Linked DNA regions of Homo sapiens: region 2 is linked to region 1. Evidence: fine-mapped expression QTL. A gene starts in region 1. The other region holds a variant in brackets. All regions are shown on one strand. Distances are from middle to middle.

Region 1 (5,000 bases):
TGCTTTCAGAACTTTCTCCAAATTCAAAGTCCATTAAAGTCAGCATTACTATTCAATAAAAAAGATATTAAAAACCTACTTTTAGATAACAATCAGTACTAAAACAGGTGAACAAAATACTACTCCTAACAGTCTATGATTCTTTAAAAGTACATATCTCCTTGTCCTAGTCAATATCATAAATATCACACATATTCACACATACACAAACCACACAAAAATAACTAAGTAGGTTATTTTGTACATTATTACCTTAGAAAATGAGTAGGTATCTTCTTAGATCCCAGATTCTTTTTTCTATTACTGAGGAAAGAATTATATCTGGATCCTTGGTGGTCCTAGGAGAGTGATTTTTTTTAGAATATGCTTTTTGAAATACATTACTTGATGAAACAAAATTTTCAGTTTTCCTCACAAAACATGAATTTCTTCTGATGAACTGAAAGACTGTAGTAATTATGAACACTATTTTAATAGTCAGATGTCCAGAGATTGATATAGAGAATCTACCTCACAGTAGCTGGGTGACCAGATTCAGTTGTCTTTCTTAAATTGGGATTAACTACCATACCAACCTTAGAGAAGGCTTACAAAGCAAATTCAATGAGTTCAAAATAAGTGCTCAAGAAACGATAGCTTCTACTTTAGTCCCATGATTAGGTTAATCATTGTATTAGTCAGGGTTCTCTAGAGCGACATAACTAATGGAATAGACATACATATATAAAGGGGAGCTTATTAACTATTAACTCACACGATCAAAAGGTCCCACAATAGGCTGTCTGCAGGCTGAGGAGCAAGGAGAGCCAGTCAAGTTCCAAAGCTGAAGAACTTGAAGTCCAATGTTCGAGGGCAGGAAGCATCCAGCACAGGAGAAAGATATAGGCTGGGAGGCTAGGCCAGTCTCTCTTTTCACATTTTTCTGCCTGCTTATATTCTTGCCGTGCTGGCAGCTGATTAGATTATGCCCACACAGATTGAATTGAGGGTGGGTCTGCCTTTCCCCACCCACAGACTCAAATGTTAATCTCCTTTGGCAACACCCACATAGTCACACCCAGGATCAATACTTCGTATCCTTCAATCCAATCAAGTTGACACTCAGTATTTACCATCACAATCATCATTATTATTATGGGACTAGGGAGTAAACTTAGCAAAGTGACTGTAAAATCAGGCAGGCTAAAATCGAAGCCTGAGTTCAAATTCAACTCTATCAGATACCCAGTGTATGAGAATTAAATATGCACGTGAAGCGCCAAGCATGGTGCACTACACAATAATACACTCCATAGGTGACAGCAATTGTGATTCTTGTCTTGCTGAAAGCGGCCTTAAGGCACACGGAGTTCACTACTTCCACAGGCAGTGTCAAACTCTGGTCACCTCTGGCAAAACGTTATCTCTGCCTTCTTCTACTCACTGGTGCACCGGTTGGGTGCAACGGGTCCCAACCTCTTCCAGGAGTGTTTAGGACAGAAGGATTTTCAGAAAAGACGGGGAATCTCAAATACATAAAGTTAAATAATACCACTGCCTGCGTGGGCATAGTAAATGGTAATAAGCCCCGAGTAGTCACAAGTTATGAAGCCTTTATCAGTAGATGCTAGGTACATGCTGGTCGCTTGAGACCGATTATCAACTGTCTGCATCAAGACACTTCTGCAAGGTAGGTACCGTTAGTTTTCATGCTTCAGATAAGAAAAAGGAGGTTCAGAGAAGTTAGTAACTTACCCTAGGTTCCACTGCTCATAGGGCTCAAACTCAGGAGTGCTAGAAGTCAGGCCTCGGGCTTGTCTCTCTCTTGCTGTCTAGGTTTGGTGAAGGAAGCTCAGGTTCTTAAATGAATCCAAGCCCTAAATCCCAGTTGACCCCAAGCAGCACCGCCCCTCTCCGTGCCTCGGCAGAGCTGTCTACGAAATGGATTCCCCTCCCCACACCCCAACGGCTTGGACCGAAGCTCGCCTTCCCTGAGCCTTCGTCCCTACTCTCACTGGCGCTGAGTCCCCTTGTGGCCAGCCGTGCTCACCTGTCCGAGGGTCCAGCGTACCAAATTCAGCTTCACCATCCGCGCGAGAAGACGCCGCTCCTACACCAGAACCCGGAAGCACCGTGGCCGGCGCGCCGGAAATGACGTTAGTCGACAGCGGATGTCCTGCTGGCTGCCAGGGCAGCGTGGGACGCTACGGCGGATATGGCTGCAGAGCGGCCGGCTGGGATCTTAGATAGGAGGGGTGGATTTGCAAGGCCTAGAATAGCTGGGGAGTGGTTTCCCCGCGGAATCGGCCTCCCTGCCGCTCCTGCTTTGTACTGTGACGCTCAGCCTGTGATGACTGGTGTGGAATCCGCTGAGCCACCTTGGCCTAAGGAGACTTTACCACTCTGAGATTGTAAATCTGTAAAATAGAGATGTAGGATTAGCCCATACGGTAGTTGTGGTAAATACTGTGAGACAATAAGGGGCCTGGGACACAGCATTCAAATGGGAATAATGAAGGTCAAGACTGTGATTCCTGTATCTTTGACGCTCTCGGTATAAGCACCGTCGTGGGCACAGGGCAGTGGCCTTTATGCAGGAGTTTAAGAGGGAATGAAGGAATGAATGGGCAAACTCTGGAGTTCCCAAGTATTCTCTCCAGGAGCTGTTTCCATTCTTTTCGTTTCCAGCAGGTTGGTAAATTCATTAATTTATTCATTGATCTAATTAAAATATACTAAGTGCCCCTCACCTGTGCTAGGCCAATGTGATACAATGAGCAGAACAGTCATGGGCCCTCCCTGGGAAGCCCTCACTAGCCCAAGGACTCCTTGTAGACATTTAAGTGTCCACAGGCTCTGGAGTTCCAACCTTGAGTGCAATTTAGCAGCTGTGGACCTTGGGCAAGTCATTACATCTAAGCCTGTTTTCTCTTCTGCAAAATGGTTAAGGATTCAATAAGATAAAACTGTAGGCAATGAAAACCGTACCTGGTAACAGTAGGTGCTGAAGAAGTGTTAGCTATTAATTTTTGCTTAATTTTTCTCTCTCTGCTCTATGTGATGAAAAGATTCAAGAGGCAATTGTTGGAATGTAAAAAGAGCACGGGACTTGGAGTCAAATACTTAAGTCTACCATCAAGTAGTTGTTAAGAATTAAACAACAATTTTTGTGTACCCAGTTAAATGTGGGCTGCTTAGGAATGATGACTGTGTCTTAATGATCTCTGTATTCTTAGTGACATGTAGAATCATTGTGCCTGACACATAGTATGTACTCAGGAAAGAAATGGAAAATGTGGTTTTAGCATTGAAGGCCGGGAGAGAGGGTCTAACAGACTACAAGCCCTGCCAGGAGCAGAGTAAGGGAAACAGAGGAGAAAAGTGTTTTTAGTCTGTGCCTGAATGTATTTACATCTGTTTGTAGCCCAAAAGCCAAAAGCATACATACGCTTGGCTTTTCTGTAGCTATGTTTATGGCTTTACAGCAGATTTTATGGAGCTGCAATTACTTTGATCATGAGGGACTGATGCTAGTGGATTTACTTCACCAAATGGAACTCACTTTGTGGCTTCTGAAGAAGGGACCTTTGTGGACTGTCATGGAGTAGTTAAGAGTGCAGGCTCTGATTTAGTGATCAGAGTCTGCATTGTCAGGAATGGGACAAAGTGAAGTTATGTGGCACTTGATAGGATGCCCTGAGAAGATTGCAACATCACCCCTGTGATATTCCTGCTGAAGATCCATAACCTGGATGTAATCATGAGGATATATCAGACAAACCCACGTAAAGAGACATGCTGTATACAAAACTGTAATCTTAGAAAGTGCCAAGGTCATGAAAATCAAAGATAGACCCTGGAACTGTTCCAAACTGGAGGGGACCAAAGAGGCATGACAACTAAACACAACACATGATTCTGAACTGGATCTTTTTGCTTGAAAGGAAGTTACAGGGACAGTTGGAAAAGTTTAAATGGGGCCTACAATGCCGTGGTAATGATGTGTCCGTGTTAATTTCCTGATTTTCATGGTTGCCTGTTAAGTTACATCAGAGGATGTTCTTGTTTGCTGGAAAGTAAATCAATGTATTTGGCAGGGGATAAGGCATCAAATGGTCACCTTAATTTCAAATTATTACAGGGAAAATGTTTCTCTCTGTACTTAATAACTTTTTTGCAATTTCTTAAAATGAAAGCTCTGGAGTAAAAACTTCAAGGATCCAAATCTCGACTTTGCTACTTCTTAGGTATGGGCCCGAGGGCAGGTTGCTTCACCTCTCTACACCTCAATTTTTCCATCTGTAGATTGGGGATAGTGACAGTACTGATCTAAGAGAGTTGTTTAGAGAAAAACAAAAACAGAAAGTGATAATTAGTGCATGTAAAGCTCCTGGCATGGTAAGAGCTTTCTAAAGGATTGTGGCTATATTCTTATTTATTTATTTATTTATTTATTGAGACAGAGTCTCACTCTGTCGCCCAGGCTAGAGTGCAGCAGCACAATCTTCGCTCATTTGCAACCTCTACCTCCCAGATTCAAGTGATTCTCATGCCTCAGCCTCCCGAGTAGCTGTCATTACAGGCGCAGCTGTAGTGATTCTCATGCCTCAGCCTCTCGAGTAGCTGGCGTTACGCCGCCACGCCCAGCTAATTTTTGTTTTTTTATTTGTTTTAATTTTTTTTTCCCCCAGACAGAGTCTCACTGTGTCACCCAGGCTGGAGTGCAGTGGCACGATCTCAGCTCACTGCAACATATGCTTCCTGGGTTCAAGCAATTCTCCTGTCTCAGCCTCCTGAGTAGCTGGGATTACAGGTGTGCGCCACCACGCCTGGCTACTTTTTGTATTTTTATTAGAGATGGGGTTTCAACATGTTGGCCAAGCTGGTTTCGAACTCCTGACCTCGTGATCCACCTGCCTTGGCCTCCCAAAGTGCTGGGATTACAGGCGTGAGCCACTGCGCCAGCCTTCATTTTTAAAAACCCAATGTCATACCCCTTTCAGTCTCAAAAATCCATGGTT
Region 2 (5,526 bases), 26 kb after region 1:
GTACAGGTGCACACTCACCCGCTGTGTGTTGTTGATGACGAAGGGGTCAGGGTTGCCATAGTTGGGGGGGTTTGCATAAGGGTCATAGCCGAGCTGAGCCAGCATGGGGGCGATCTGGGCCATGTCCCGCACCACATCCCCAGGGATGTGGCCAGTCCACTTGGAGAGCGCTTCCAGGTTAACAGGCTTGATGACCTGGTCCGTGGACCGCTCGATCCTGGGGAGAGAGGAGACGCTGGAGAGGGTAGGGCAGACCCAGATGGCGCCTGAGCGGATTCCCTGCTCAGCCACTCTGGGGCAGCAGGAAAGACTGGAGAAACCTGGCCTCCACCCAGCTCTGCCCCATCAACTGTGAGATGGCAGGTGAGTCATTTTTGCCTCCTCATACCTCCTTTGTACAATGGGAACACAGCATGCAGTGAGAAGTCAGAAGAAAGTACTAGCAGTATACACCATTGGTACATACATTCTGCTTTCTTCTCCAGCTTAAAAAATAACAACAGTTTAGGTCAGGCACAGTGGCTCACACCTGTAATCCCAGCACTTCAGAAAGCCAAGGCAGAAGGATCACTTGAGCTCAGGAGTTTGACACCAACTTGGGCAACATGGTGAAACCCCATTACAAAAATAAGCTGGGCATGGTAACAAGCGCCTGTAGTCCCAGCAGCTGCGCAGGAGGCTGAGATGGGAGAATTGCTTGAGCCCGGGAGGTTGAAGAAGCAGTGAGCCTGAGCTGTGATTGCACCACTGCACTCCAGACTGGGCAACAGAGCAAGACCCTGTCTCAAAAAAAAAAGAAACACTTTTTAATGTGTATGACTAACATGAATATTTTGTCCCTAAAAAAAGTTATAAAACACTAATGATAAAGCTGAAAGCCACTGTGTTCATCACTGCCAGCCCATCGGCTTCCTACAGGCACTCAGTCTTTGCACTGTGGAGCACACCACCTTCTCTAACCTTTTCTTGTAGAGTAGTTAAGAGCAAACCAGGGAGCCAGATTGCCTGGGTTCAGACGCCAGCTGTTCCCCAGCTGTGTGGCCTTGGGAAAGTTACTTCACCTCTCTGGGCCTCAGTTTCCTCTTCTGTAATTGGCAATGATAGTAGTACCTACCTCACTGGGGTTGTCTGAAGAGTAAATGAGTTAATACAAAGAAAGTGCTTAGAAGAGCGTAGGCACATTGTAAGTTTTTTCTTTTTGGAGATGGAGTCTCACTCTGTTGCCCAGGCTGGAGTGCAGTGGCACAATCTTGGCTCACTGCAACCTCCACCTCCTGGGTTCAAACGATTCTCATGCCTCAGCCTCCCAAGTAGCTGGAACTACAGGCATGTACCACCACGCCCAGCTAATTTTTGTATTTTTAGAAGAGACGGGGTTTCACCATGTTGGCCAGGCTGGTCTCGAACTCCTGACCTCAAGTGATCTGCCCGCCTCGGCCTCCCAAAGTGCTGGGATTCCAGACATAAGCCACTGTGCCTGGCCAACACATTGTAAATTTTTAATAAGGGTTAGCATGCTCTCTCTCCTGTGCACACGCTCTCTCTCTCACACACACACACAAACGCGCGTCTGCAGCTGTAAAACAAATACGCTAGTTTTTTTTCCCCACTCAATACCTCACTCTTTTTGCCAGCTATGTAGCCTTCCTCCATCACTTATTTTTCCATTCCCCTGAAGACAGACATTTAGGTTGTTTCCAACTTTTCACAGCTACCATGGAATAACCATCATCTTCAACCTGCTTCCTAACTCTCCCTGTAACAGGCTTCCCAAGCCACCTGAATGATGCAGATCTTACCAATTATAACTCAGGGGCCTGACAGGATGAATGGTGGGGAACCCCCAGGATCAAGGGCCTAGTTCTAAATGTTTTCATCCCAACTAAGAGGTGACTTGGGAAAGAACAGAAAGAGGCAGCAAAAGGAAGACAAGACCGGGCGTGAGGTGAGGAGAACAGGGGAAGGTGAAAGGGTGTGGACTGGTGGGTAGAACACAGATTCAGAGGCTGCAAACCTGGATTTAAATCTTAACTCTACCCAATATGTCAAAAATCTTGAGTATGTGCATGGCTTTTGCCAAAATCCTTGTGTCTCTAGGACTTTATGGTGCAGAAATGAGGTGGACACATCCCAGAACATGAATGAGGGCAATGCTTGATACATATCAGTAAAACTGGAAATAACCGAAGTGTCCAACAATAGGGAATGTGAAGTCGAATATGGCAATCCGTGTAGCAGCCTGTCGCACAGCTATTCAAAATGATGCTGCAGGTCAGGCGCGGTGGCTCATGCCTGTAATCCCAGCACTTGGGGAGGCTGAGGCGGGCAGATCACCTGAGGTCACGAGTTCGAGACCAGCCTGGCCAACATGGCAAAACCCCATCTCTACTAAAAATATAAAAATTAGCAGAGCGTGGTGGCGGGTGCCTGTAATCCCAGCTATTTGGGAGGCTGAGGCAGGGAGAACTGCTTGAACCCGGGAGG[C/T]GGAGGTTGCAGTGAGCCGAGATCACACCACTACACTCCAGCCTGGGTGACAGAGCGAGACTCCGTCTCAACAACAAAACAACAACAAAAATGCTGCTACCAAAGAGTGCTGGCTGCCACTGGCAAGGGCTCCCACACCACCGTGGAAAAAGGCTACAGAGGAGTATGTTTCGTTGGACTCCAGTTTCATCAACAGGCCCTGAAAATGGTGCAGTAGGCCACACATCAAGATCTGGGTGGTGAGATCATGGGTTGTTTCTCCGTTCTTCTTTGGTGTATCTTTTCTAATTTTCTATAGTCAAGATGTATTACTTTGGTAATCTAATATTTTTGTCATAATAATTTATAAAATCCTAGCTCCAGCACCAACTGGCTGGGGTACCCGGCATGTAGGAACTTTGTTGCTAGCGGAGAGCAGCTGCGAGCCTCTAGCTCTGCTCTGGGCCTGGGAAGGGGCCCAGCAGGGACCAGCCATGGGAAGGACCAGCCATGGGAAGGACCACCCTTTCACTGAGCTCTCAGGCTATCCAGAGCCTGATCAGGATGGGAAAGCGTGGAAACTGCATATTCTGCTCCAGCATTGTTCAAAGTGCTCTGGGTCTCAGGATAGGGACAGCAGCTTTTCCAATGGAAGAAGGCAGGGAGCAAGGGACAGAGGGAGGAAGGAAAGGAAAGGATGAGGGGGAGTGAAGGGGAGGATGGGAGGAGTTCTGGACATGGGGAGTTTAAGAACACAATAGGCCAGGGGCCTGTAATCCCAGCACTTTGGGAGGCCAAGGCAGGAGGAAGGCTTGAGCTCAGGGGTTGGAGACCAGCCTGGAAGACATACTGAGATCTCATCTCTACTAGGAAAAAAAAAAAAAAAATGAGCTGGGTGTGGAGATGCTCGCCTGTAGTCCCAACTACTCGGGAGACTGAGGTGGGAGAATTGCTTGAGCCCAAGAGGTCGAGGCTGCAGTTAGCTGGGATCGTGCCACTGCACTCCAGCCTGGGCAACAGAGTGAAACCCTGTCTCAAAAAAACAAAAACAAAAACAAGAAAAACCCCAAAAAACAGACCTGGGTTCCAATCCCAGCACCATGCTTTGTTAGCTGTGTAGCCTGAGGCCAGTAACTTCTCCTCTGTGAGATTCAGTTTTTTGGTCTATAAAATGTGGATAAGAGGTGTTCCTATGTCCTCAGGTTGCTGTGAGGATTAAAGGAGATAAACTTGTTGGGGGCTTAACCCAATACTTGCCATACAGTAGGCACTCATTAAATGACAATGGTGAGGATGGGTACTCCATCAATAAAAGCAGTATCAACACTAAAATAGTAATAATAGCACCTAACATTTATTAACCTATTTGATGCCCACAGGTATCTATAAGGTAGGCAAATTATATTTCCATGTTACAGATGAAGCAATGGAAGCACAGGGGTTGAGTCGCTTTGCCCAGGGTCACACAGCTAAGAAGTGGCAGAGCTGAGGTTTGAACCCAGACATCCTTGTTCTGGAATCTGTGCTCTTAACCTTTACCCACTATTGCCTTACTACAAAGCATATTCAAAGTTTGCAGATTCTAGGCTGGGTGTGGTGGCTCATGCCTGTAATCCCAGGACTCTGGGAGGCTGAGGTGGAAGAACTGCTTGAGGCCAGGAGTTTGAGACCAGCCTGGGCAACAGGGCAAACCCCATCTCTACCAAAAATACAAAAATTAGCCCAGCTTGGTGGCGCATGCCTATAGTCCCAGCTACTCAGGAAGATGAGGTGGGAGGATCACTTGAACAGGGAGGTGGCGGCTGTTACTCCAGCCGGGCAACAGACCGAGACACTGCCTCAAAAAACAAACAAACAGCCCACGAAGTTTGCAGATTCTCTCAGAAAGGAGAGGAGTAATTGTTGTCATTTTTTGGGATAATGAAACGGAGGCTCAGAGAGATATAGTGACTTGCCCAAGGCCACACAGCTCAAGAAAGGCAGTGCTGATTTTCTTGCCTGGCGCCTCTGACTCCAGGGCCAGAGTCTGAGTGGAAGCATCAGGGGCTCCACTCACTTGGACAGGGAGACACCACCGGGCTTGCCAATGAGGTCTTCATGGTGGAGGACAGCGTCGCTCCAGGCGATGCCGAGGAAGTCGAGGATGAGCTTGAGTGAGCGCCTGGGGTGCAGCACCAGCTGCTCGTAGTACACAGGCAGGCACTTCTCCTTGCCTACCTCCATGCACTGGGCGTACATCACCTCGATGGCCTTGTTCCACTTGGTGAGGCAGTCACGGTAGCTGCTGAGGTCAAAGCCCGCAATGGTGACTTTGCGCGTGATCATGGAGTGCACGGAGGCCCGGCCGTCCCGCACCATCAGCAGGAACTTGGAGTTGGGGAACAGGCGCGACAGGTAGACCGAGGACTTGAGCGTAAATGGGTCCTTGTTGCAGAGCACGCGGGCCGGCTCTCCGTGCTTGGCAATCACCTCCAGGATGAAGGCCTGCATGGCGGCGTCCAGCACCTCATCCGTCACCCCCGCCTCATCCAGCCGCAGCTTCTCACGGCCAGACTTGGACCAGGCCTGGCGCATGGCCAGCACGCGCGGGATGATGCGGGTCTCCTCGCCGCAGCGCACCTCGGGGTGCGCGTCCAGCATGGCGCGCATCAACGTGGTGCCACTGCGAGGCACGCCACCCACGAAGATGAGCGGCATGGCCTTGCCATAGCGGTATTCCACGTGGTTGGTGCCCACCATCACCAGCTCCTCCTGCTCAGGCCGCATGGCCCCCCGGGGGCTCCGCAGGCCCGCCAGCACCGCCCGGCACTCTAGCACCTGCTGTCCCAGCTGAACCGCCAGCACCAGGACCAGGGCGCAGCCGGCTGCCAGCAGCACCCTCCGCACCGACAGGCGCATGCTGGGCCGGAGGCAGGGTAGGCCTGGCCTGAGGGCCCGCTTCTGGGGCTTCAGCGACAGGTTAGCGGGCAGCCCGCCAGGCTCACATCTGGGGAGAGAGGGGGACATGCATAGTCAGGGAGGTCTGTGAGCTGTGAGCTCTCCAATAACTGCAAAGCCCTATAA

What was found.
Region 2: its variant is fine-mapped to the expression of TFIP11 in whole blood (TOPMed, PIP above 0.99).

What each region holds. Positions count from the first base shown.
Region 1 is chr22:26,510,365-26,515,364 of GRCh38, forward strand. TFIP11 (tuftelin interacting protein 11) reads right to left here and starts at 2,109. Exons shown (of 15, transcript NM_012143.4): 1 at 2,030-2,109; 2 at 1,735-1,811; 3 at 253-338. It overlaps TFIP11-DT (TFIP11 divergent transcript), which reads left to right and starts at 2,168. Exons shown (of 2, transcript NR_144529.1): 1 at 2,168-2,670; 2 at 3,048-4,204. RefSeq lists enhancers at 1,992-2,171, 2,394-2,931.
Region 2 is chr22:26,536,270-26,541,795 of GRCh38, forward strand. It overlaps TPST2 (tyrosylprotein sulfotransferase 2), which reads right to left. Exons shown (of 7, transcript NM_003595.5): 3 at 4,520-5,449; 4 at 19-217. The coding sequence starts at 5,361. Among named protein-coding and RNA genes, the nearest start is that of MIR548J, 16 kb to the right of the region's middle. RefSeq lists an enhancer at 5,076-5,526. The variant C/T (reference allele first, on the strand shown) is at 2,485.